Homo sapiens: one gene and its partners. The protein of the gene in region 3 purifies or fractionates together with the protein of the main gene of each other region. This does not show direct contact. Each region holds a gene or a part of one and is shown on either strand. Other genes may lie near its edges. The genes, in order: LYST, NIN, MYH13, MKNK1, PLEKHG1, DMAC2L and GARRE1.

Region 1 (3,500 bases), on a different chromosome or scaffold from region 3:
AGAAAGTTATCTTTTTCTAGTGATATAAATGCATAGTGGAGCTAAAGACAGAACCTATGTGGGTTACACAGAAAGCCATCGATTTGAGATCTGCTCATAATATTTAAATAGCTTAAAGAAGAGGTGTTTACATCTATTTTTATGAAATTTATTTCCAAATTGAAGAGGCAGTGTATATAAAGGTAACAGAGCTTGTGATAATTTACAGAAATGTTTGCTACAACATGCACATTATGAAGTATTTCAAACATATACATATTAGGTTTCATGCTGAATAAATAATCCCCCCAAATTAATTTTTATTTTTACATAAAAATATAATATTGCACTCTTAACAAGACCAGTTATTCTGCATATTTTCTCTTTAGATAAATGATGAAATTCGGTTTTTAAAAAAAGATGAGTAGCAACCCTATTCTAATAGGGGACTAATTTAAAGTTCTCAGTAAAAAAATGAAAGCTAGACAATAGCTGCAATTTTTTGTTAACAAAGCAAATCACTTCAACGTGAATAGGAGTAATCTCATCTCTGCACCTCCATGGACCTCAGGATTCACACCTGGCCTGAGCACACGGTGATCTAAATGCAGCCTAGGTATCACTACATGTGTATGCAGTTTAAGGTTAAAGCATACATGGCCACGTGCTTTCTCTCGAATCTATCTTGACAGCAGAGACTTTGGAATTATATTTTATATGGTTTTTAAGCAGAATGTTTTAGAAAGTCTGGAAGTTACAAAAGTAGTACTGTAAACACCATATGAATTAAATTTCCATAACAAATGCACAAGTTATTCTTAGGCAGGGATACATATTTTTATCCCATGGTAACATATTACTGAGCTTATCTGACAGTGTTTTCAAAGCCAATAAAGCAGCACCCCAAGTAAAAATATACAGACAGCCATCATATGGGAGAGACAGACGGCTCCAAGATGTTTAGGAATTCTGTCTTTATGGTATGTAAGTTTGCTGTGGAATACACGAGATTTTATTATTCTTCCTAGAATTCTCAGATGGTATAGGTTAGTAGAAACAGAATGAAATGGTTTCCTAAAAGAATTATTCTGCCTCCTGTTTAAAGTAAGCTTTTATAATTCTGTTTTGGGGAAGAAAATTCTTCCTGCAGATTAGATCAAATGCCTTATTTAGGCTGTGTTCTTAATACCCATGCAAACTTCTTGCATACTGAAGGCTTTCTATTGCAAATTGGTACAGATTCAATGCTCTGTAAATAGCAGACTTTAAGACTTACCATTGTGTTTAAACCTCAGTGACTCAACTAAGGATAGTCAATATCTAGCGTTACAGATTTTAAGTAAAATTTTTATGAAGAAACAGAATGTGTCTGAAATCCAAGATACCTGTATTCTTGTTTGTGGCTGTCAAAAAAATTCTGGTTCTCCTTTGAGCTAAGAAAGCAACTGGCAAAAACTGCCTAATTTTGAGATTCATTCATAGTTTATTTTAGTATTTAGATATTCCATAAAATATTTGGTACAGAGGCACCTACTGAATAATTTGCTTCTCAAAGAAAGCAATTATCAAGTCCTAAAAATTATCTTTTTTTCTTTCCTCTTTTGGAGCATGTGTGTGTGGTGGGAGGAGTATTTCATGGCAGTAAACTTTTAAAATATAATTTTAGTGTGTTTTATATAAACAATCAACCAACCAATTTAAATTCTACTGGTCCTTTTGGAATCATAGAAAAAGGGGAGACCTTAATATTTTCTTTGGAATACCTTGGTGGGAAAAAATTTTAAGAATATCATTTTAATGTACCATGCGAGGCTTAAAACTTGTTGGCTAGTGCATATTGACACAATCTTCCAGATTATCACTAAAATAGAACAGAACTTTCCTCTTAGGATCATGTGACTCTTCAGAATTTTGTGCAGATGAATAGACTTTATCATTATTTGGATGGTTTGTCCAGTCATCCATTTCTTTAGGTTCAACCTCCTAAAACTGGTGAAGTCAACAAATCTAGTTTGGAGTTAAAGTGCTTTGGAGAACGTGAAGTTCATTCGCATTCACCCGGCTGCATAGCTGCTAAGGAAGGAATAGAACATTGGCTGTTTCAAGCGCTGCTGGTCCTTCCGACACCAGGCAATCACGGTCCCATCACTGTTTGCTGTGTACAAATGGTGGCCATCACAAGAAAATGTAAGGCTGTAAAAAAAAAAAAATTCCCATTTGTACATTATATTTCTTAAAAGTGTATTAGCATATTGGTCATCATACTGAGGTTAGTGTAAAGAAGTTATCTTCAGTGGCGCAGAGAGACATAAACTAAATGACTGCCTACAACTCATTGGTTTTGACTGTAATTCTAACATAGTCACTCTGCTGACAAGTTGAGATGCTCATAAATGCGGTGATATAGAATAAAATCAGGATCACAAAGCTCAGTACATTCTATTCTTTGCATATCTTCTTTTGCCTCCTTGTTTATGCTTTATTACATAAACAACAAATATTTGGGTGTACAAAACTTTTAAAAATATAACAGTACTATATTTTCTCCTTATAAAGATAAATAAGTATTTTATGGCTATATATTATTTCCCTAAAAGAGAAAAGGAAAAAAATGTAACATTAGTAATTAATTTAGGTTCCTTAAACTTTAAATTTAGTACACTGAAAATACATTTAATTTAATAAAGTAAAATTTGAATCACTTTATTTCTAATTATTTAAAGTCAAATTTGTTAACTAAGCAAAGAGTAACTGATTATTTATCTATTTTGTCAAGCACCCCTGCAGCTATCAATCACCATTATGGTCTTGTCAAATATGAAAGGAAAAAATACAGTCTCTATGATTCCAGAGACACACTACAAGCATGCCTTTCCACTAGACTCTGAGTCACTGACTCGGATTTTAAGCTCCATGAAGACAAGGAGTGTGGTCTCTCTTGCTGCTGGGTCACGGACAACCCGCTGTGTGTTAAGTGGTTGGCTTTTCATGATGACTTCAATTGCACATTTCTTTAAGTCTGTGTGCTTAAATACCTCTCTACGAAAAATACAATCACAAATTGTATTCTGAAGCATAAGAGGGGGAGAAGATCTTACCTGATGATGGGCTTATTTGATTTGGGAAATGTAATTTCTCTCACAGGCTTTAAGTCCCATGTGCTCCATAACCTAGAGGGGAAAAAAATCATCTAATTATGCAAACTAAAATTACTCTCCCTAAAAAGCCCTCTATATTTGTTTATTTGTTAAAAATCATGTGGAAGGAAATGTAACAAACAATTAACAGTAGTTCCCTCTAGGGAGTTTGCAGGGGGTAGATGTGGGAATAAGAGAACTTTTAACTTTGTATACTTCCATACTGTTAATCTTTTATAGTTAACATAAAACTTCAAAACTGTGCTAAAGCTATCTTTATTATTTAGAAATAAAACAGGAATAACTAAAGAACCTACACCCCAAGGTGAGTTTAAATCTCTAAATACTGAATATTAATATGCCTAGATATTAAAAATTAATTTC
Region 2 (3,500 bases), on a different chromosome or scaffold from region 3:
CTGAGGATGTGGGTTCCCAACATAGAATGTGCTGCTCTATGAGAAAAAAGAATTGGAAATGCCCTACACACATAAGCCTGTCAGAGCCAAAAGAAATTAGAGAAGTGGATTGGTGGGAAGGACTTACTTTATCTTCGAGCTCCAGTCTGAGGCAACATATGTCCCTGTGATGTTGTTCTTTCATCTGTTCAATGACCAGCTCTGCCTCAATGCTCATATTCAATGGATTGCATTCTTCAGAACCGAGCCCTGAAAACACATGGGACTCATTGATCCTGCAGCAGGTTCTTTCAATAACACAGTGTGGCATCTGAGGAGGGACATCCAGTTTAACTAAGGAATGATTTTCAGCCTGAATTACCAGAGATGTGAACTAATAGGAAATAACAGAGGCCAAGAGAAGTCTTTTCTCTTTTCAAGCGTTAGGGCAAACAAGAAGAAATGAAGGTGAACAGATTCTTTCATGTACAGGCAGTGGAAAAAACCTTAATAGAATCCATCTCTTAGAATAGTAGGTGGTGGGGCGGCGGGGGTGGAAATTGTTGCTTATAGGTAGCTACCTCCTAATGCAAATGCTGCAAATTGAGGTAATAGCATGAGGTAGTTTGGTCAAACCAACCAGACTCCTACCCATCCAACAAATACTGAATGACGATGTGGCAGGAAAATGAACGGCCAGCATACTTGCTGCGATGCCCTGAGGAGTTAGCTTCATGGGTCACACTATCAACAACCCATCACTCAGCATTACAGAAGACTGCCTATTTCCTATGAATTTCCTAGAGTGTGGGTAGATCCCCATTTTATCTTATCAGCTATTATTGGCTAAAATTATCATATTTTAGCTATTATCAGCATAATTTTAGCATATTATCAGCTAAAATTTTAAAAAACAGGGCATAGGTTAGGAACCAGGATACAGGCAGTTGTGGGTAGAAATTCTTAACTCATGCATGAGCTCATCTCTGCAACTGCCCACGACGATGACTGAGAATGACACTGAAAATGTGAAGCATAAGTTGGGGGCTGAGCTTGTACACAGAAGAAAAGATTATGACTAATCTCTTAAGGCAGTGGGACCCAAAATAGCTTTGCATGTGGGGATACACAGGCAGATGGAAGAAAGGAACTTTTCTTGGGTATATGTCTAGCAGCTGCAACTGGCAGTCTTGCTTTGGGTCTTCTCTTCATATTTGATGGCATATTCCCAAATGAGAAGTAACACCCAGGGTGTGAGCCACACCACGATGGTACAGCTTCTTGTCCTCATGAGGAACAACCCCAACACTTGGCCATCTATGGAAAAGTCCATAACAGCTGCCGAGATATATCATATTATGAGATCCTCAGACTGGAATGAGCTAAGAATCAGAGGGGAGGTCTTAAGGCCTCTTTGTCTCCTCCTTCCCCAATCTGTTAATTATTCTGCAGTAAGAGGAGGAATAAACAACCTGTGTAAGAACGACACTCCTATCCCCAATAGCACTGGGGAAAGTTATTTATAACAGAATAACTGATTATGAGCTGTCTCTGAAATTTAAACTCAACACCCCCGAGAAAAGAGGTAGGCTATCAGGAGAGAGGAAAGGAGCTCATAGTTAATGCAGGAGGCTCCCAAACTCTGCCTTCCAAACTTGCCACTCAAAATCTTCCTCAAAGGCCAGGAGGCCAGCCCTTATTTATCTTCTTTGTTCTGCTGAGGCAATACAGACATTCAGCACAGCCCGTATAAGAAAACCAGCTATGGATTCTGTAGTATCTGGCTGGCCTGCTCTCCAAAACCATCTTCATATGAGTTACACACTCTCTTCGAAGAGGACAGCAATAGCTCAGTGTCTGAATTCTAACACTCCCAAGGCCTGGATTCCCAGATTTGCAGCCAGTTTTTTGTTTGTTTTGTTAACAAAGCAAATACCCTTGTGGTTTGATTCTTCCATTCCTTTGTTGACGCATATCAAAATCAGATGGAAATGTTCTCATAAAAACTTCAAGGACAAATGAAAAACGAGACCACAAGTGAAACAGCTCAAGAAAAGAGTATGGCCAAATTCTTTTTTTTTTTTTTCTTTTTTCAAGTTGCCAAAGCTTTGCAATTTTATATTGAACCACGTTTCTAAAAACAAGAGTAAAGGCTTTATCTACAGCCTGTCCGAATGTGTTTACCGTGTTCGGGCTCAATGCCACCGCTGTTAGCCTCAACTTCTTCTGACGGTGAGTTCTTCAACGGAAGCCTGAGCACTCTGCCTTGTGCACGATATTCTTCCAGCTCAGACTGGAGTTCATCTACTTGGTCTTGTAGTACCTGGGATTTAAAAACCAACACTGGTCTTAGATGTGACACCAAAAGCATAAGCAACAACAACAACAAAAAAGATAAATTGGATATCATCAAAACAAAATCTTTTGTGCTTCAAAGGACACTATCAAGAAAGTAGAAATGTTTTGCAAATTAAGTATCTGATAAGGGACTTGTAACTAGAATATATAAAGACTATTATAGCTCAATAATAAGACAATTTTAAAAATGGGCAAATGATCTGAATTGATATTTCTCTAATGATGATATACAGATGACTAATACATACATGTAAAAGATATTCAATATCATTACCTATCAGGGAAATACAAATCAAAGCCACAATAAGATACCATTTCACACTTACTAGGGTGGCTAGAATCAAAAAGACATACAATAACGACTGTTGGTGAAGAAGTGGAGCAATTGGAACTATCATACTAGTGGGAATATAAAACAGTGCAACCACTTTGCAAGAAGTTTAGCAGTTCCTAAAACGGTTAAACATAGGGTTACCATACAACCTAGCAATTCTACTCCTAGATATATGCCCATACAAAAACGTGCGCACAAATTTTCATAGCTGCGTTACTCATAATAGCCAAAATCCCCCAAATGTCCCTTAACCGGTGAATTAATAAACAAAATGTGGTATATCTACGCAATGGAATATTATTCAAGAAATGAAGAACTGATACACGCTACAACATGGATGAACTTTAAAAACATTATGTTAAATGAAGGAAGCCGGTCTCAAGGGCTAATATTGTAAGATTCCATTTATATGAAATGTATAGAATATGCAAATCTGTAGAGACACAAAGTACACTAATAATTGCCTAGAGCTAGGGGGCTTGGGAGAGATTATGGCTAAGTGGAGAAGGGGTTTCTTCCTGGGGTGATGAAAATGTTCTAAAATTGAATGCGGTGATGTTTGCACAATTCTGTCAATACAATAAAAGACTGAATTTATACCTTCAATGGGTAAAACATATAGTGTATAAAGCTGTTAAGAAAACAAGTGGATGAGGCTGGGTGGGCAGATCACCTGAGGTCAGGAGTTCAAGACCAGCCTGGCCAACATGGTGAAACCCTGTCTCTACTTAAAAAAAAAAAAAAAAAAAAAAAAAAAAATTAGGCGTTTGGCAGACACCTGCAATCCCAGCTACTCGGGAGGCTGAGGCAGGAGAACTGCTTGAACCCA
Region 3 (3,927 bases):
CTGCTGACGCACCACTCCGTGTCGAGCAAAGCCCCTCAATCCTCTCCGTGCATGCAGTTGCTAAGTCAGATCTTCTCCCTATATTTGTGCAACTGTGAGTTGGGACCCAGGGGAAGACCATTCATTTTTGACTGATAAACTTCACCTTGTTAGATCTGACCCAAGTCTCTAGGCATGACTCATGCTGCCCACTGAGCACCACCCTCTAGAGTTTCCTTAATTAGCCTCTTCTCTGTTCCAAGAGCAGGACCTGCTTCCAACGTTGCATAGCTGTGCCCCTTCAACCACTCTGTTCCTGTCTTTAAGGGCCTTCTAATTGAGATGACTACCCCCGCCTGCCTAATCTCCATCACCCACTTGTGAGGGCTCCTCTCTCTCTGTTTACCCTCTGTGTACCATGACACTACTCTCAACTTTCATCCCTCTCCTGGGAATTTCACCGCTACTGTGTCTTGTCAGCAATGATGTGCTCATGATTCAATGACAGCTTGGCTTTTTTGGTCCCAATTCATCTAGAACTACCTCTAATAAACACACGTTTTAAGGGGATAGGGTTTTTATTACCGCACCGGGCATAGGATTGAACGGATCCCTCCCCATTCCTTCAGTATTACACGTGAGGGAAGGTGCAGCTGTGTGGATTCATGGGTGCAGACTCTGCTCAAGGAGCAGCAAAGTTAGCCTTTGTGTGAAGACTGCATTTGGACCCTATGAACATCATGTTCTGTGCCAACTAAGTACTGTGTATTGACTTGGAGCTTGTATGTCAAAATTCTGCATTATATTTCGTACATTTCAGTGTAATGAGCAAATAGGAGAAGCCATTCTTCCTTTGGTAAAACCTGTATATATTTTAAAATCTACCTTTAAGAATAGTTAAGTTATTGGTTTCAAACTCATCAATTTCGTCTTCTTATGAGTGTGGCAAGAATGAGAACGTGTAAAATGATGTTTGCTAATTTCAATGATTGCATTCATGATCAAGCTGAAAATAACCCTTACCTTCTTGGTTCCCAAGTGACAGTCAGTGTCCTTCAGGAATAAAGCGTCTTCCTGGGGATAATTTGAGAAAAAAAAACAAACCAAAAAAACCCAAATGAGCTACAAAGAGTTTAAATAAATATAGAAACCATGTTTGTTCCAGTTTATCTACCTTAAATAGATACACAGTAGATGGTGTGGAATGAAATAAATTTGCTGTTTTGAATTTTTACTTTTGATTAAAATCATTATTCTTTAAATAGTTGGTTAATTACAACATTTAATTAATACTCTCTTGAGAAACTTCTGTGTGTACAATGTACTGTGTCAGCTCCTTAAGGGGGTATGAAGAGGAAAGTACAGTATCTGCCCTATAGGAATGCAAAAGTTAGTAAGGGATAAGAGAATGCTCAAGTAAGTCTTTGAACAGGATTAAGACAAATTTTTAAGGAGTCTAAACAAAGTACTATGGGAACTTAGAGAAACCGCTTCTGACTGGGGGGCTGTGAGGGGTCAGGGAAGAAAGAAAGTAGGGAGGGGAATGCTCCAGATTGCAGCTTGGATGCTTAGGGGCAGTCACCTTTTTTTGGCAATAGGAGAAAAGTTATAAATTGTGGACAAAGACTTCTTTATTCTCTTCAATGCTCTAAATTCCTCCTGCAGATGATGAAGGTAGGGCAGCTGAAAAGTCACCTGGGACTAAGGAATCTCAGCTCTAGGAGTTTATAAACTACGTGGCTATCTCAAGGAGGCATGAGTGTCTGAAAAATTTTCAATATCAAATGTAATCTAAGCAAACTTCCCAATTACCATTCAGTGCTTTTATGGAGCCAGGGGAATATTTCATGAAGCCCTATTTAGGCAGGAACAGACACTTAGGATTTGGTTTACTATCCTTGTTGCCTCCTTCCTTCTCCGTCTTTAATGCATCTTAAATAATCTCCAGTTATATCCTAAAATTCTCACAATTTCTTAAAAAATTAAAGTATTACATACTATATTCTGAATCCTCAATTTAAAAAAATATGGAGGCAGAGCTACAGAAATTCTAATATCAGTTCTGTTAAGTAGCTGGTATGATTTCTTTGGGTTTCTGTTTCCTTCCGTAAAATGAATCAGATGCACCAGAAAATCTCCAAGATTCCTTTCAGCCCTATGAGTCTATAACAGACAGTTCTCCGTAGAGATGGTGGCCTGAATTCAAAGTATCACAAATCTCTGAGGGATGCTATTGCACTGTCAGACACAGTCCAGTCCCAAGTCCATAAAATATGCCATGTGAGAACAGTCTGCAAACCAGTCAATTCATATCAGACTATGACACTTTGTAAGATGGGTAAGATGCTTGGGATTATTTCCTCCCACAACCATTTTTCAGAAATCCTGACATGGGAAACAAATTAAATAAACATAAAAATTTCAAATAATAGCTTAAGCAATCACAGAAGAGATACCACAAGTTACCAAGTTAATTTGCTAACTGAACAGTATAACATTGACCTAAATAATCAGAGGAGGAATCATGCATTATACTCAGTTTTGTTCTGCAGGTGAATATTTTTTGTCTTATAATTGCTTATATTCTTGTCTTTTCACCCCTTGTAAAAGTTTCTTGAAAGGCAGTTGTCTTGTCTTTCCATCTTGTCTCCAACCTTGCCCTCAACACAAGACCTTGCACTTAGTAGGCCCTCCGTAAAGGCTACTTTATTGTCTTCCCCCCTTGACTGGTAACCTGATCAGGTGCAACTATAGCTACGTGGAGCAAAAAAGTGAGCACTTGTGAGCACTTACCTAGAGATGCTGCGGTCACAGCAATTTCAGGAGTGTGACCCCCCAGCTCTCTTTATACTCCCAAATCTGCCAGCCCAGCACTCTAACTTGGCTATATTTGGGGGAGCACCATTTACTTGTTAGATGTAAATGCGTCGTAGCCCTGATCTCTCACTCTTGTTAAGTTACTTGGATAAATGACCAGTGGAGGCTGCATAATGCCAAGTCAGCTGCATAGGGATTTTGACGTTGGACACAGATCTTTGAGACTTAGAGAGTCCTAGGGGCTGAGTGGAACTGGAGCAGAGTGTGCTAAGAAGGTCACTGAAGGGCAGAACCACAGGATGCTTTGTCAAGCAATGGGTGATCAGTAGTGTGGACAGTAACTACACCTCATTTACCCAGCATTGGTATGGGATGGTGTGCTTCTCATCTCAGAAATCTCTGGAAATTTAAGGTTGACCTTTTAACACATCCAGTCTTATTTATGTATTTGTTTGTTTAAAAATCTACTGGAAGAAAAGCTTTCCAAAATGTATTTTACATTATCCTGCTCTGTGTAACCTACTATCTTGAATAGAATTTAAGTTTTTCTTGATCACTCTGGGGGTCTGGGAGATGATATAATAAAGTCATCAAGGATCTGGTTCTTAGTGGATCATGCCTGCACTAATTGTTCCTGCTGTGAATTTTGGTGTATACTTTTATTTATTATTATTATTATTATCGAAACAGAGTCTTGCTCTCTCCTCTAGGCTGGAGTGCAGTGGCGTGATCTTGGTTCGCTGCAAACTCCATTTCCCAGGTTCAAGCAATTCTCTTGTCTCAGCCTCCCAAGTAGTTGGGATTATAGGCATGTGCTATAATCCCATGTGTTATATATAGGCATGTGCTATAATCGCCCAGCTAATTTTTATATTTTTAGTAGAGACAGGGTTTCACCATGTTGGCCAGGGTGGTTTCGAACTCCTGACCTCAAGTGATCCTCCCGCCTCGGCCTCCCAAAATGCTGGGATTACAAGTGTGAGCCACCACACTTGGCCTTACTTTTTAGATTTTCTGTCTTTGCCTTCATGGCCAGCCTCTCAGGTATAATTTCTTTCTGTGGTAAGTTTGTCTTTACTAGCCTGATTTTGTATTATTGATTGGGAAAGAGATTACAAAATTAAGATCAGG
Region 4 (3,500 bases), on a different chromosome or scaffold from region 3:
TGACATGGAAACCTTGAAAAAGCAGAAATAGAAAGGAAATCAAAATGCTGACTTCTTTAAAAGGACCAGAAAAGAGAAAGATCAATCTGAACGTGCCCCAAACCTATGAGTTACCCCACTAAGTAGATATACACGCAGCAATCACAGGTTTCCCATCTTTAAAATCAGACATTTGAATTAAATTTTTTGTAGAGATAGAGTCTTGTTATGTTGCCCAGGCTGGCCAAATTATTAGCAATGATTATTTGGGAAGGGGTGGCTTCTAATTCCTCTCTATCCCCACTGCCATTAAGCACTGGAAGATTTAACAAAGGTCTGAGTGAAATTTTTCAGATTCTGTTTCCATTATGGGATTCCAGACCCAAAAAGATGTAACTGGACCTGGATGATAGAGATAAGACACCTCTGCTCTGAGGAGTCTCAGGCAAAAGATAAAAGTTGACAGGCCAGGTGTGGTGGCTCATGCCTGTAATCTCAGCACTTTGGGAGGCTGAGGCAGGTGGATTGACTGAGCTCAGAAGTTCAAGACCAGCCTGGGCAACATGGTGAAACCCATCCCTACAAAAATACTAAAATTAGCCAGGCATGGTGGCACACACCTGTAGCTGCTTGGGAGGCTGAGGTGGGAGGATTGCTTGAGCCCAGGAGGTCGAGGCTGCAATGACCCAAGATCATGCCACTGCACTCCAACCTGGGTGACAGAGCGAGGCACTCCTCTGCTATCCACGTTTTTAGAGAAATGAGCTGGGCTCTCTCTCTTAGTGGCCAAGTCCAAGTCTCACAGGCAAGAGGAAACAGAGCCCGAAAGATAAAGTAGATGCTGAGAGCAGGAGGTGGCATGAATGGGAACAAGGTTTTGTGTCGAATACATAATTATTGCTAGTTTTCAATCTGATGACTTCATTTTCTCTATGTTCACTGTTATTTTAATACCATGGCTCTAGCTATACAAGTCAAAGTTGCTTTGTCAACTTCCCTATGAAATAAATATGCATTTCCCCTTTTCTCGGTGGAAAAGCCCTGAAAATGCAGTTTAACTCTGAATTCTGAGCCAAAATTTCTAAAAAGGCTTTCTAACTGGAAGTTGGGTGTGTTTCACCATGACCTCAAACCACATGCCCCAAGTGGGACTTGTGCCCAACCCCCACCCACTGCCTCCTTCCTCTGACTTCTCTTCTTCCCTATCAGATCACGTCATCCTGCCAGTTATTCCTCAAAGGCAAGCACTTACCTTTTTCATCTTTGCATTACCAGCATCTAACATAGTATCTGGCAAAAATGGGCTCTAGTGAATCTGAATGAATTACTTAATACACGAAATATCTCTTTAACATCCAATAAAGATGTTAGCACATTGGACAGTCCTTCCTACTATGCTCTTTATTCCCAAACAAATCTGAAACCCAGTAAAACTGTTTCCAGGGCCTAAGGAAACTCAGGGTATGCTCTCTTTCTTCACTTCTACTACCACACTTCCAGGGACAGCCTTGAACACCATCCAACGACAGGATCTGGCTCCATTAGCCAGGCTGGAGTGCAGTGGCATGATCTTGGCTCACTGCAGCCTCCACCTGCCAGGCTCAAGTGATCCTCCCACCTCAGCCTCCCAAGTAGCTGAAACTACAGGCACGAGCCACCACGCCTAATTTTTGTATTTTTTGTAGACACAGGGTCTCACCATGTTGCCCAGGCTGGTATTGAGCTCCTGAGCTCACGTGATTTGCCTGTCTCAGCCTCCCAAAGTGCTGGGATTATGGGCGTGAGCCACCACGCCTGGCCTTGAGCTTCCATTCTGTCTTTAGTCTTGTCATAGGTTTAGACCCCCACCTGGTCCCTTCTTGTTACCTATGGTAGGAGTTGGCAATTTTTTTTCTGTAAAGTGCCAGATGGTAAATATTTTAAGCTTTGTGTGTCACATGATCTTTGTTATGACTCAATTTTGCATTTGTAGAGAGAAAGCAGTAGACAATATGTAAATCAATGATTGTAGCTATATGTCAATAAAACTTTATTTTTGGACACTGAAATTTAAATTTCATAGATTTTCATGTGTCATAAAATATTGATCTTTTCTTGATTTCTCCCCAACCACATAAAAATGTAAAAAGTACATTAGTTTGCATCCACACTAAAACAGGCAGTGAGTCAAATATGGCCTGTGGGCCATACTTTGCCAACCCTTGGCCTACAGTAGAAAAAAAACCCCTCAGAATTCCTTATGGGCTTTGTGTTATTTTGCCACGTGGAGCCACCTTAGGCTGGGGAAGTAGAAAGCACAGGGCTTTTGGGCATTAGGTCCTAGGTTCCAGTTCTGGCCCTACCATCTACCAGCCGGGTAGCCTTGGACATAAAATTCAAACTCTCTGAGCTTTACTACCATCATCTATAAAATGGGGCAATAACACCTAGATCACAGAGTTGTCATGGCAATTAAGTGAGCTAATGTATATAGAGCTCGTGGCACCAGTATCTGGCATACAGTAGGCACTCAATAGTAACTCTTATTCCAGCTTCTGACATGGCTTCTCCAGATCAACTGCAGCTCTGGAAAGCAACCCAGCCAATCTGTGAACCACAGTTGGCCGCAGGAGGGAATAAACTGACAGCAAATACAAAGGCAGAGAGAGAATGTGGAGGTTTTCAGATACATGTCACAGGATTCTAAGTGCCTGGTTAGCCCTAATTCCTTCTGGCACCATTTAAAATTCCTCTGGTCCCTTTTTCCTCCTCAAAAATTACTTCTGACTCTCACAGTTCTTAAAGATTCTTAGCATTCTTTACCAACTACCCAGATGGACCCTGGAGCCCTCTCCTCATTCCTGTACCTCCTGCTGGTATAGGGCTGGGGTGGGGAAGGGTGACCATGGCCAGACCAAACCTACACAGATCCATCGGCCTGCAGCTGGGTCTTAAGTAGGCTGGGCCTGGCGAGGCACCCAATTCTCTCTCAATTGTTCATGAATTTCTTGCTGTACTGGGAATTAAATTTCTTCAGTGCTTAAGAACTAGACCTTCTACAGACGTTTTAGAGCAAAAAAAAAAAAAAAAATCACCATGTATACAAACAAAAGATCCATCACATTACTTTCAAGACAGAAAACATCAGTGAGGCACAGGTAAGGCTAAGGTTTATGGCATCTCTACCCTTGGTCCAAAAAGCCAGATCTCGACCTGTTACTTCCTTGCTCTAAAACTTCTAATGGGTGTCCACTGCCTCTGGAGTAACCAAGCTTCTGTGCTGTCACTCACGGCCTCCATCAACTTGTCCCAGACCAACCCTCTATGGGAGTCTTAACCTGCAGTCTCGTCAAAAGGGACTGTATTTCCACCTGATTGCTCTAACCAATTCCCAGCTTCCTACACTTGTGCATAATTAAATTACCTGTAACATTTTATTACGCATCTTCCCCTAGACTGTTAGCCAGGGACAGGGTAGAGACTATGTCTCCTTCATCTCTGGGACCCCTACACCTAGCAGAGGCTCTGGTATGGGGCAACCA
Region 5 (3,500 bases), on a different chromosome or scaffold from region 3:
GATGCCACTAACTATTAAATGCTGTCTTTGGGATTGACATTGACATCCATGGAAACTGAAGAATAGGAAGGGCATATCCAAATCTTAAATGAATGCACAAGTTACATAACAAGAATCTGTAGGGAACTTTTTTTTTTAAGTTTGAGAGTATTTAAGAATTGTCTAAAGTTTTAATCTTCAGTACAATTTCTTAACAGATAGGGAAACAAAGTGCTGGAATTGATGCCTGAAGGATTTCACAGACTCTGAGTTCTTCTTTTTAATCAAATGAAGGTTTTGTATGCATGTGAGACTAGAATGCATGTATTTTTCTCCTTGCCATGATGCACTATGAGTAATTCAAGTCCCTATTCTGATGCTAGCGTTGCTAAGCTGGTTTGCTGTTACAGGGAAAGTGACTGAGTTCCCGCTGCAGGAGGACAATTTTGGTGGGGTAGGGGAATATATATGGCCTTAGAAACAGTTGTATATTGGCAATTGCAAGCACTGACTAAGTCTGGGTTGGGGCTCCTCAGCATAAGAGGAAATGTAATGCTGAAGTTTTTGATGATGATGGGTTATGCCCACAGACTACCACTGAAAAAGTAGTAATTCCCTGGGCCAGGTTGTTTTGAATATGGACCATCTGTTAAAATACAAAGCTCCAATCTTGACAGAAGCATGTCCTTTGATACTGAATCATTAGGGCCTACGACTACCTCGAGTAGTCTTCTTTTTTACCCACCTTTTTAAGTATTAAATGATTTCACATTGGGGTTTTCTTTTCACTTTTGGTTGGCTCTCCTTTTTGTTTTGCCTGCTGGTGTTGTCTTGGGATGCCCCAGGATCTTTTCTCAGCTTTGCGTCTGGGTCCTTTCTTGACATGGTGGGCTCCTGTCGACGTTCTCCCCAGCAAGGAGGAGGAAATCTCTCCCGAGTCATCTTCTGAGAGTGCTGTCTTCCCTGCCATCTGGCAGAGGCACGTCCCTAGGACCTGATGAGTTATATCCACACCTCGTCCAGCTGGGTGATCGAGACCACTTCCTGTGCCCACTAGGCTTTCCGTCAGTTGACATGATGACTCCTTTTCTCTTTCTTGTTTATCTGGGCACAGGACGTCGTAATCGAATGGACCGATTCTCCAGACTTCTCCGTGTGGGCCTTGCCGCTTTGCCAGGAGCTTGCTCTCGGTGCTGTGCGGAAGGAGGAGCACCTTATTCACCTGCCGAAACTCTCGAGCATCTTTATTGAACTCTCTAGCCGGGGTCTCCAGGCCCTGGGTCAGATTTCTGCCTATAAATCACCCAACCAGGTCCAGTTGCTCCCATATCTTAGAGCCTGTCATAGCATGCTGGCCATCTTGTTCCATCAGACCTTCCTCCTGATAGTCTTTGAGAGCAAGGAGGCCTTTGGGTTTCTGGGTTTTTTGGTGATGTTTCACATGGGAGAAAACTCCATACAGGCTTGAGAAATTTTCCTCCTTGTGTAGAGTAGGGAAGGCACAATTTTATGCTTTTGTCTGCATCTCGAGCAACATCAGAAACATTTATTTTAATCCTCTGTCTGGAGGATTAAAATGTTGTTTGATATTTCCCTTGGCAAACATTATTCTAAATTTTTGTCTGAGATCATAAGAACTCCAATTTTCAAATCTCAAAAAAGGCAATAAACCAGAGACATTCTTGCGATTGTCATGTAGTCATAATGTATATATTCTATACAACTGTTAATACTAGAACTAAGGATATGGGGGAGCCTCAACTCAGCTGACTAATACTAAGCTTTTTAGGCCAGAGGTGTCATCTCAGGCTGGCTGTTCCCTGTACATCTGGCTAATAGAATCTGTTTAATTACAGCTGGAGCTCTGGAAGCTTGTCTCTTGTTCACATAGATGTCACACAAGCTATAGACTCTCTTAGAAGGTCAAGCTGAAACAAAAAGCCCCTTAGATCAGCAGGTGCAGTGACTCACACCTGTATGGCCAGGCACAGTGACTCACACCTCTATTGCCTACTAGTGAGATACCTTTTATTCAAAATTGATAAATGGTCAACTCTATCATCCAAAGATAAACTGTTCCCATTATGAGTTATCTATAGGAAGCATTTTAGCTGTCTTCTTGCTTCTGCTTTTTCTGCTTATGACCTGATTTCCAGGCCACCTTTCCACTCCCAGTGGTATGGTCTCAGGAAAGTGCATCCCTTTTTAAAAGTAGGCTTAAAATGAAAGGAGTCTGGGTGCAGTGGCTCACATCTATAATCCCAGCACTTTGGGAGGCTGAGGCGGGCAGATCACTTGAGGTCAGGAGTTCAAGACCAGCCTGGTCAACATGGTGAAATCTCGTCTCTACTAAAAATACAAAGAATTAGCCAAGCGTGGTGGCGGGCACCTGTAATCCCAGCTACTCTGGAGGCTGAGGCAGCAGAATCGCTTGAACCTGGGAAGTGGAAGTTGCAGAGAGCCGAGATTGCGCCACTGCATTCCAGCCTGGGCAACAGAGTGAGACTCCATCTCAAAAAGATTAAAAAATAAGTAAAATAAAGAAGGGAGTGAAAAAAATTCTGAGTAATGAATTAGTTATTGAGACCACTTTCTGTCTAAACCATGCTAGGTCCTCTATAGGGAGTTGAACAAAATGTACAGCATTGTTCTCCCAGACCAAAAGCTCAGAGGCCAGGCGAGGTGGCTCACACGTGTAATCCTAGCACTTTGAGAGGCCAAAGCAGGAAGATTGCTTGAGCTCAGGAGTTTGTGACCAGCCTGGGCAACATAGCAAGACTTTCTCTCTACAAAAAATTTAAAAGTTAAAAATTTCCAGGCACAGTGGCTCATGCCTATAGTCCCAGGTACTCAGGAGGCTGAGGCAAGAGGATTATTTGAGCCCAGGAGTCTGAGGCTGCAGTGAGTTATGATTGTACCATTCCACTCTAGCCTGGCCAACAGAATAAGACCCTGTCTCAAAAAAAAAAAAAAGAAAAGAAAAGCTCAGGGACTAATAAAGTAACTTACATAAAATGGCCAGGTGCAGTGACTCACACCTGTAATCCCAGCACTTAGGGAGGCTAAGGCTGGTGGATCACTTGAGATCAGGAGTTCGAGACCAGCTTGGCTAACATGGCAAAACCCTGTCTCTACTATAAATACAAAAATTAGCCAGGCGTGGTGGTGGGTGCCTGTAGTCCCAGCTACTAGGAAGGCTGAGGCAGGAGAATCACTTGAACCCAGGAGGTAGATGTTGCAGTGAGCCAAGATCCTGCCACTGCACTCCAGCCTGGGCAACAGAGTGAGACTTTGTCTCAAAAAAACATAAAATGAAAATAAAGTAACCTACATAAAATAATTAGCAACACAGCAATACAAATTGTGTGTGTCTGCATGTGTGTGTGTGTGCACACACAGGCAACAGCTAGGTACACACTATGTAAGACTTCAGAGAAGAGAAATCAGAAAAGGATTCAAGTAAGGAGAAGATAGGGCTTATGGAGAATCTTGAGAGATGAGTAGGATTTGATTAAGCAAAG
Region 6 (3,500 bases), on a different chromosome or scaffold from region 3:
CTATTATCCAACCACGTTGGGTGTTATTTATCTCTTTATATGTTATCTCTCTTTATTAAATTATATGTTCTATGAGGTCAGGAACCTTGTCTTTCTGTGTGTCTCTTTCTCCTTTGTTCTTGTTTTTGTTTGTTTTGTCTTACCATTGTTGCCTTTGCACTAAGTATAGCAGACATTCAATAAACATTTTTTGAGCGAATGAATGAATGGACATGGCATTTGAGTAAGGTCTTGAGGTTGGGTGGGATTTCCACAGATTGATGGTGATGGGGGAGGGAGGCTAAGAGAAAACAGCCTGAGTAGAAGCTGGGAAAGCCCATATTTGTAAATAAGATTGACAACTAATAGAGTTATTCAAGGTGGGCACAGGCAGAGAGCGCTTTAACAAAAAGTTGGAAAGGGTTGAGAACATGATAAGAGGTAGTGGAGCAGAGGCTTGCAGTAATGAAGACGGCTGTAGTGAAAAAGGGATGAAAGGGTAGTTGGTTCTGTCTTCAGTTCACATCTCTCACTGTTCCACGGCCTCAGCATCCTCAATCACTTCCTCAGCTTTAAGGTGTTTCCCTCTCAGGCATCTTTCTAGTCCTCTTCTTTCTCTTGAATTCCAGAACCATGTAATGATTGAGGAAAGGACCCTGGGCTGGTAGAGAACTGGGTTCAGGTTTCAACACTGCCACCAATTAGTCATGAAACATTGAGCAAGTCCCTTTAAACACATGCATTTATTAATACCCCACCTTGTTTCAGAAAGGATTTAGGATGTCAGGAAGTTACTTAATATCAGGGCTTCAGTTTCCTCACCTCTAAATGAGAGATTTCATCCAGGTGATCTAAATTCCTTACAGCTCTAATGTTTTGTGACCTCTGATTCCAATGATTTGTTGGTCATCTGCACTTAGAAATCCTGCTAACACTTAGTATGTAGATTATGAAAAACTAAAAGAAAAAAATCTGAACCTATAACCCTGTTCTCCTAATGTGATTTCTTTTAATGGCATCACCATCCTACTACCAGTGACCCAGGGCCAAAACTTGGTGTCATTTTCAACTCCTCTAGCCCTTGCCCCTACATCTCACTTAACTGAGTCATATGGAACTAACTATGTAATGTCATTCCCATCCTTCCCCAACTAGGCCCTTTCGTATGGCCTCATGTGATTGAAGCCCTTGCTGACTGGCTGTCCCATTCTGTTGACCCTTAATCTTGATGCTGCTGAGTCAATTTCTTGAAGCACAACCGTAACAATGCCAATGCTTTGTTCTATTTTATTTATTTATTTATTTTTGAGATGGAGTCTCACTCTGTTGTCCACGCTGGAGTGCAGTCTGGTACAATCTCAGCTTACTGCAATCTCTGCCTCCCGGGTTCAAGCGATTCTCCTGCCTCAGCCTCCCGAGTAGCTGGGACTACAGGCGCATGCCACCATGCCTGGCTAATTTTTTATTTTTTTATTTTTTGGTATTTTTAGTAGAGACAGAGTTTCACCGTGTTAGCCAGGATCGTCTCGATATCCTGACCTCGTGATCTGCCTGCCTCGGCCTCCCAAAGGGCCAGTGCTTTGTTCAGAAACCTCGGTGACTCCCTGCTACATACAGAATACAGTCCAAATTCCCTGGCTGAGCATGCAAAACACTTCACGACCTGACTGTGCAAGTTGCCTGCCTCTTCTCATGACTCACATGTGCTAGTGAAACTGAAAATAACATGCCTTAAATGTTCCTGCTTCAGCTAATAATCTGGCATAATTTTTCCTGGCACCTTTGTTTGTTGAAATCCTTTCTGTCCTTATTTTAACTCTTTTGAGGCATTTATCAAGTTCTGTCACTTATTTTAACTACTTGATAACGTGTCTTAGCCCACTCCATCCTGCATTAAATTGTCAGATGCTCAAAGCAAACACCATGTTTCATTTATCTTTGTCTCCCCATCTCCTCCTCCCTGCCACATCCAGTCCCCTGCACACACCTAGCATACTACTAGGGAAACTTGAATTGAGGTCAATCAAATCGAAACCTACTCCAGGAATCACTTTCTCAAATTATGGTTATACATTTTGACAGCTGGAAATTAAGCAAATCATCTCATTTTACAAATGAGAAAACCAGAGGTCAGAGAGGTGAAGTTACTTGCCCAGTCTTTCCCAGCTGCCCTTAAAACAGTTTTTTTGTTTACACTGCTCTGGTAACACCACTTGCAGCCTTGTCATAGGTAGATCTATTTTCATGTCTCCTCTTCTTTCCTGGATGCAAGCATCTTAACCTTGACACGTTGCTCTTTCGGTGATTTTAGTCTGTCATTTTGATGCTGGAAATATAGATGGGGAATAGAGGAGCCAGCTTCAGCAAATTCATAGCTACAGCGCCTGAATGGACACTAGATGGCAGTACGACAGGCAGACTCCAATTGAGGTTTCAACAGTGGAACTTAACGTTCTAGCCGGAAGGAGCCTTAGACACCATCCAGTCCAACCCCTCATTTTTTTGCAGCAAACAAATAAAAAACCCCAAGAACAAGAAACAGGAGTGACTTGCTCAGTAATTGTTGAGTGGCAAGTGAGTCATCAGCTTTATCAGTACAAGAGCATTGACTCTGAAGTAAGTTGCTATATGTATGGGACTCGGATGATGATCTAATGTAAGTACTGTTTTGTGTGTCTAGATCAAATGATGCCGTTTGGAAAAATTTCCCAGCAGTTGTGTGGCGTAAAGAAACTCCCATGGTCATGTGACTCCAGATACTTCTGGGGCTGGTTGAATGCAGTGTTTAATAAGTAAGTTACTCTAAATAAAGTGAAGAAATGTGGAGATGGTTACAGCTAAATAAGTTCCCAATAGCTTGTTTGGCTATTTCTCATATTTACAGTTTGTGCAGTGTGATCCTAATTTTGTTTACAAACAAACAAAACCCACACAAACATGGAAAAAACACCAGAAAAACAGATTACAAAATATTAATTGTGGCTGTTTGGGTTGCAGGATTTCGATGATTTTTCTTACTTGTCCTTTTGATATATTTCAAGTTTTCTAAAACATTTTATAATCAGAAAAACTTATTAAATATAATTTTAAAGTATTTTATTTTTATGGCTTTTTAAAGGAATGTAGTTAACCTTTTGAATTCTATCAAAGTAACTTGGGTTTTCAAAAAATTAGTGGGTGGCACACTTAGAAATGTCATTTTGAAACTTGAAACTAACCTTCTAATTACTTAATACAGCATTATGATCACTAGCTAGAGAAAAAAGCATATGTAGAAATTAATAAATATCACTTAATGAGATTAATTTGACCACAGATTCAGAATTATTTTCTCTTTAATCTTTTGTTATTAATACAAATTCTAACCAAGTATAGTCATTCGTAGAATAGTTACTAAGTATCTCTGGTGTCAAGCACTGTACTATATGTGAATCAATGAAACGTTGTGTCTGATAAATTCATATAAAAATAATACGCCTTGACAGCGTTCACGTGGAAACAAAAACAAAACTAAAAAAGTC
Region 7 (4,277 bases), on a different chromosome or scaffold from region 3:
AAAAAAAGAGAGTGGACACCCAACCCATGTGATATCCCAGCCTGCTAGCTTTCAGAAACAATTATTTCCTATAGACTTGGAAGACCCACTTGACACATGGATCCTGATGTATTAGGCTATAGGTTTTCAACAGAACAAACATTTACTAAAATTTTCACAGAATCATGTGCAATTTGCTTAAAAAAAAAAAAAAGGATGCTTAAAACATGGTCTTCCAAACATCTGGAGATAATTTTAGATTGAAAAATCTAGGCTTGCCAAGGGAATCTGAGAACTTTTCTATCTTGGTCTCCAATGCCAACCTACGTATTTGTGTGCAAAAATAGAGGAAGATTAGAATCTCAAATGCCACACTGAAAAGTTGCCACAACAAACCTGAACTCTTCATATGGAGTTTGTTATCTTGTCAGCAAGAAAGCAAATGAAACGGCAATAAACTAAACTTTTTGCTTTAAAAAGAAAAAAAAAATCTCAAACATGAAATATTCCCTGTACTTGTATTGGAAAATGATTTCTTTTTAAAACAAAATATTGTGAAGATACTGTGAAAAGAAAATACTGTGATTTTTAAAGACACTTGAAAACATCTAAGCACACACAAAATGTAAATATGAACTTTGTAAGTAGCCCTTACAAACATACACTTAGAACTTTTAGTCTAAAATATGATAAAATGATAAAGCTTACATATTATTCAATAAATCTGGAACTGACTAGCCATTTACAAAATATTTCATATTTTAAACCAAGAATGAATTTTAGGTAGACTAAAGGCAAAAAAATAAAACCATGAAACGATGAGACGCAAACATGAATTTCTTTTTTTTTTTTTTTGAGATGGAGTCTCACTCTGTTGCCCAGGCTGGAGCGCAGTGGCACGACCTCGGCTCACTGCAACCTTCGCCTCCTGGGCTCAAGCGATTCTCCTGCCTCAGCCTCCCAAGTAGCTGGGACTACAGGAGCGCGCCACCATGCTTGGCTAATGTGTTTTTTTGTATTTTTTTAGTTGAATCCGGGTTTCACCACGTTGGCCAGGCTGGTCTAGAACTCCTGACCTCAAGTGATCCGCCCGCCTCGGCCTCCCAAAGTGCTGGGATTACAGGCATGAGCCATCGCGCCAGGCTGGAATTTTTTTTTATGACAAAGAGACAGAAAAATTGTCCAAATATGTCAAAGGAAAACAAATACTATGTATTCTTAAAAATTGAACGTTACGGCCGGACACGGTGGCTCACGCCTATAATCCCAGCACTTTGGAACGCCGAGCCAGGCGGATCACCTGAGGTCAGGAGTTCGAGACCAACCTGGTCAACTGGGCGAAACCCTGTCTCTACTAAAAATACAAAAATTAGCCGGGCGTGGTGGGTGCCTGTAATCTCAGCTACTCGGGAGACTAAAGCAGGAGAATCGCTCGAACCCGGGAGGCTAAGGTTGCAGTTAATCTAGATCCCGCCACTGCACTCCAGCCTGGGTGACAGAGGGAGACTGTCTCAAAAAAAAACAAATAAAGTTACCTTTGACCCCATTTGTAAATTTATTCTAAGATAACAATCAGACCAGGTGTAATATCTCACACTTGTAATCCCAACACTTTGGAAGGCGAAGGCGTGAGGGTCGCTTGAGGCCAGAAGTTTTGAGACCAGCCTGGGCAACAGTCTCTTATTAAAAAAAAAAAAAAAAGACCATATCAAACAAATCCTTCCGGCAGAATTGTTTATCTTGTGACAAATTGGAAACTATCTCAATGCTCATCGGTGGTTAAATCACATACTGTAAAGTCCATAAAAATAACAATACCTATCTGTATTTATTGATTATCACCAAAATGTTAGCAGTGGTTGTCACTGAATGGTAGACTGGCAGATGACTGTCATTTTCTACCTTAAGACTTTTTGTGTCGTCTTGAGTGTTTTGCCAGGAAAGGAGAATTAACTGCTTTTATAATGGGGATGAGGGACCAGAACAAGGTATTTTCAAACTGGAGGCCCCCAAAGCTGAGTCTCTGGAAAATTTCTAAAAAGTCTAAACAAAATTCTTATCATGCCAACCAGGCACGCTTCTTTCCTCGCACCGCGCGGCGCAGAAAGACACACCCCTGACTCTGCGCTCGTCCCTCGGGCTCGGGTCCTCCACGCTCAGCCCCGGCCCTCCCGGTCCCCGCGGACCCTCCCCTCGGGCCCAATGCGCCAGCTGGCTCCGCAGGGCCGGAAAAGCGCGTTCCTCGGCAGCCTGGCGCCGCCGGGAAGGTGCGCGCAGCCCGCCCGGCAGCCCCGGGATGGCGTGAGGGCCGCCTCCCCGGCTAGCCCCAGCGGACCCCTGCCGCCAGCAGGCCGCCCTCCCTCCGCGGGCTTCCGGGAGCGGGTCCTGGCGCCAGCGCGACCTCCCGGGCCCCGGCGAACCGAGGGAGCGTCCCCTTTCCCCGCCTGACGGGCGCCGACCCGCCCCTGCGGTGCCGCGGCCGCCGAGTCTCCGACGCGCCCCCAGGTCCCGGGTTCGCGCCAGGAGGCCCCTCCGGGCTTCCGTCGGCCGGCCAGCGCCCGCAAAGCCCGGCGTCCTCCACAGCGGGCGGGCAAGGGGCGGGAGCCCACGGCCCCGCGCCCTGCGGCCCCGAGCGGAGCGGCGCCCCGCGGGCCCGTCTCGCCGTCTGCCCTGGCTGCGGCCCGCGGCCCCGCTGCCCACCGCCCACCGCCCGACCCCGCCCGCCAGCCCCCGCCTGCGCCCGCCGCGCCCGCTCCTCACCTGCGACGCGCCCCGGCCCCCAGCGCACCGCCTTGGACCGGCTGTGTACACCGGAAGTTACGTCTCCGGTCCGGCCCCGCCCCCGCCTCGGGCGGACGCGGGGAGGTTGCGGATCCCGCGCCTAGAGCGGACTCTCCTCTCGCATTAGAGGGGAGGGGGCGCCCCGGAGCCTCCTCTCCTGGGACCCTGGGCCCCCAAGCGGGACGGCCGGGGCGGAGGTTGAGGACTGGCGGCCAGAGCCGGAGGTCCACCCAGATCCCCCACCATGGCTTGGCCCCCGGGCGGGAGGGGTCGGGCTGCGTCCTCCTGGATTTATTACTGAAATTGACTGAAATCGATTACTGGCGTATGGAGTGTTTCCTAGATGCCAGGCCCCGACGGGCACTGCAGGAACGGGTAGTGCTCTCTCCCTCATAAGTTTATTCCTTAGTGGTAAATACACAATACCATTGTCACATATCCGGGTGATAATATAGTACCAATGGTGACAAGTGGTAGGAGGGGAAAGAGTAAGAGGGAGGGAGAGAGTACCCTGACCTAGTAAAGGAGAGTGATCCGGAATTCCCCCAGGGAAAGAGCAGGAGCTGAGGTCCTAAGGGGTAGAAGGGAGAAAAAAAAAAAAAAAAACGAGAAGGGAGGAGAACACATTACGCAGAAGCAGCAGCAAGGGTCTTCCAGTTCTGTGGGTTTTGTTTGTTTGAGACGGAGTCTTGCTCTATCGCCCAGGCTGGAGTGCAGTGACGTGATCTTGGCTCGCTGCAACCTCCACCTCCCGGGTTCAAGTGATTCTCCTGCCTCAGCCTCCCGGATAGCTGCGATTACAAGCGTGCGCCACCACGCCCGGCTAATTTTTGTGTTATTAGTAGAGACGGGATTTCCCCATGTTGGCCACGCTGGTCTCAAACTCCTGACCTCAGGTGTTCCGCCCACCTCGGCCTCCCAAAGTGCTTGAGCCACGGAGCATGGCCCAGTTTTGTGTTCCAATAATAAATCAGAGTGGTGAGAAGTTAGGTCTTACTTGACAGTGTTGCAAAACTAATGAGTTTTAAGCAAGAGGTGATTTGTCCATACTTGAGAGTGTAAAGGGGTTACTCTAGATGCAGTGTGGAGAAGGAAGGACTACGGAGGGGAGGCAAGAGTGGATATAAATGTGTACACCCATGTTCATATTAGTCAGAAGGTGGAAGCAACCCAATGTCCATCCACGGGTGAATGGGTTCACAAAATGTGGTATAAACATAACAATAGAATATTACTCAGCGTTGAAGGAGGCCGGGCGCCGTGGCTTACGCCTGTAATCCCAGCACTTTGGGAGGCCAAGGCGCGTGGATCACCTGAGGTCAGGAGTTCGAGACCAGCCTGACCAACATGATGAAACCCCGTCTCTACTAAAAATACAAAATCAGCCAGGCGTGGTGGCGCATGCCTATAATCCCAGCTACGATGCAAATAGATGAGCTTTGAAGATATTATGCCAAAAGAAACCAGTCACAAAGACAAATATCCTATGATTCCACTTACATAAGGTACCTAGAGTA

What was found.
Region 1: the proteins of MYH13 (region 3) and LYST purify together in Homo sapiens (affinity purification with mass spectrometry; one large-scale study listed by BioGRID and IntAct). This does not show direct contact.
Region 2: the proteins of MYH13 (region 3) and NIN purify together in Homo sapiens (affinity purification with mass spectrometry; one large-scale study listed by BioGRID and IntAct). This does not show direct contact.
Region 4: the proteins of MYH13 (region 3) and MKNK1 purify together in Homo sapiens (affinity purification with mass spectrometry; one large-scale study listed by BioGRID and IntAct). This does not show direct contact.
Region 5: the proteins of MYH13 (region 3) and PLEKHG1 purify together in Homo sapiens (affinity purification with mass spectrometry; one large-scale study listed by BioGRID and IntAct). This does not show direct contact.
Region 6: the proteins of MYH13 (region 3) and DMAC2L purify together in Homo sapiens (affinity purification with mass spectrometry; one large-scale study listed by BioGRID and IntAct). This does not show direct contact.
Region 7: the proteins of MYH13 (region 3) and GARRE1 purify together in Homo sapiens (affinity purification with mass spectrometry; one large-scale study listed by BioGRID and IntAct). This does not show direct contact.

Annotation. Positions count from the first base shown.
Region 1 is NC_000001.11:235,660,907-235,664,406, forward strand, and holds the end of LYST (lysosomal-trafficking regulator), read right to left. Parts: intron 3,150-3,500; coding exon 3,078-3,149; intron 2,173-3,077; coding exon 2,034-2,172; 3' UTR 135-2,033; downstream 1-134. UniProt on the Homo sapiens protein: Adapter protein that regulates and/or fission of intracellular vesicles such as lysosomes. Might regulate trafficking of effectors involved in exocytosis.
Region 2 is NC_000014.9:50,761,663-50,765,162, forward strand, and holds part of NIN (ninein), read right to left. Parts: intron 2,303-3,500; coding exon 2,164-2,302; intron 250-2,163; coding exon 128-249; intron 1-127. UniProt on the Homo sapiens protein: Centrosomal protein required in the positioning and anchorage of the microtubule minus-end in epithelial cells. May also act as a centrosome maturation factor.
Region 3 is NC_000017.11:10,370,207-10,374,133, forward strand, and holds the start of MYH13 (myosin-13), read right to left. Parts: upstream 2,801-3,927; 5' UTR 2,773-2,800; intron 1,054-2,772; 5' UTR 1,003-1,053; intron 1-1,002. UniProt on the Homo sapiens protein: Fast twitching myosin mediating the high-velocity and low-tension contractions of specific striated muscles.
Region 4 is NC_000001.11:46,594,269-46,597,768, forward strand, and holds part of MKNK1 (MAP kinase-interacting serine/threonine-protein kinase 1), read right to left. Parts: intron 13-3,500; 5' UTR 1-12. UniProt on the Homo sapiens protein: May play a role in the response to environmental stress and cytokines. Appears to regulate translation by phosphorylating EIF4E, thus increasing the affinity of this protein for the 7-methylguanosine-containing mRNA cap.
Region 5 is NC_000006.12:150,833,885-150,837,384, forward strand, and holds part of PLEKHG1 (pleckstrin homology domain-containing family G member 1), read left to right. Parts: intron 1-3,500.
Region 6 is NC_000014.9:50,318,824-50,322,323, forward strand, and holds part of DMAC2L (ATP synthase subunit s, mitochondrial isoform a precursor), read left to right. Parts: intron 1-1,739; exon of another isoform or gene 1,740-2,553; intron 2,554-2,659; coding exon of another isoform or gene 2,660-2,664; coding exon 2,665-2,771; intron 2,772-3,500. UniProt on the Homo sapiens protein: Involved in regulation of mitochondrial membrane ATP synthase. Necessary for H(+) conduction of ATP synthase. Facilitates energy-driven catalysis of ATP synthesis by blocking a proton leak through an alternative proton exit pathway.
Region 7 is NC_000019.10:34,253,077-34,257,353, reverse strand, and holds the start of GARRE1 (granule associated Rac and RHOG effector protein 1), read right to left. Parts: upstream 2,801-4,277; 5' UTR 2,740-2,800; intron 1-2,739. UniProt on the Homo sapiens protein: Acts as an effector of RAC1.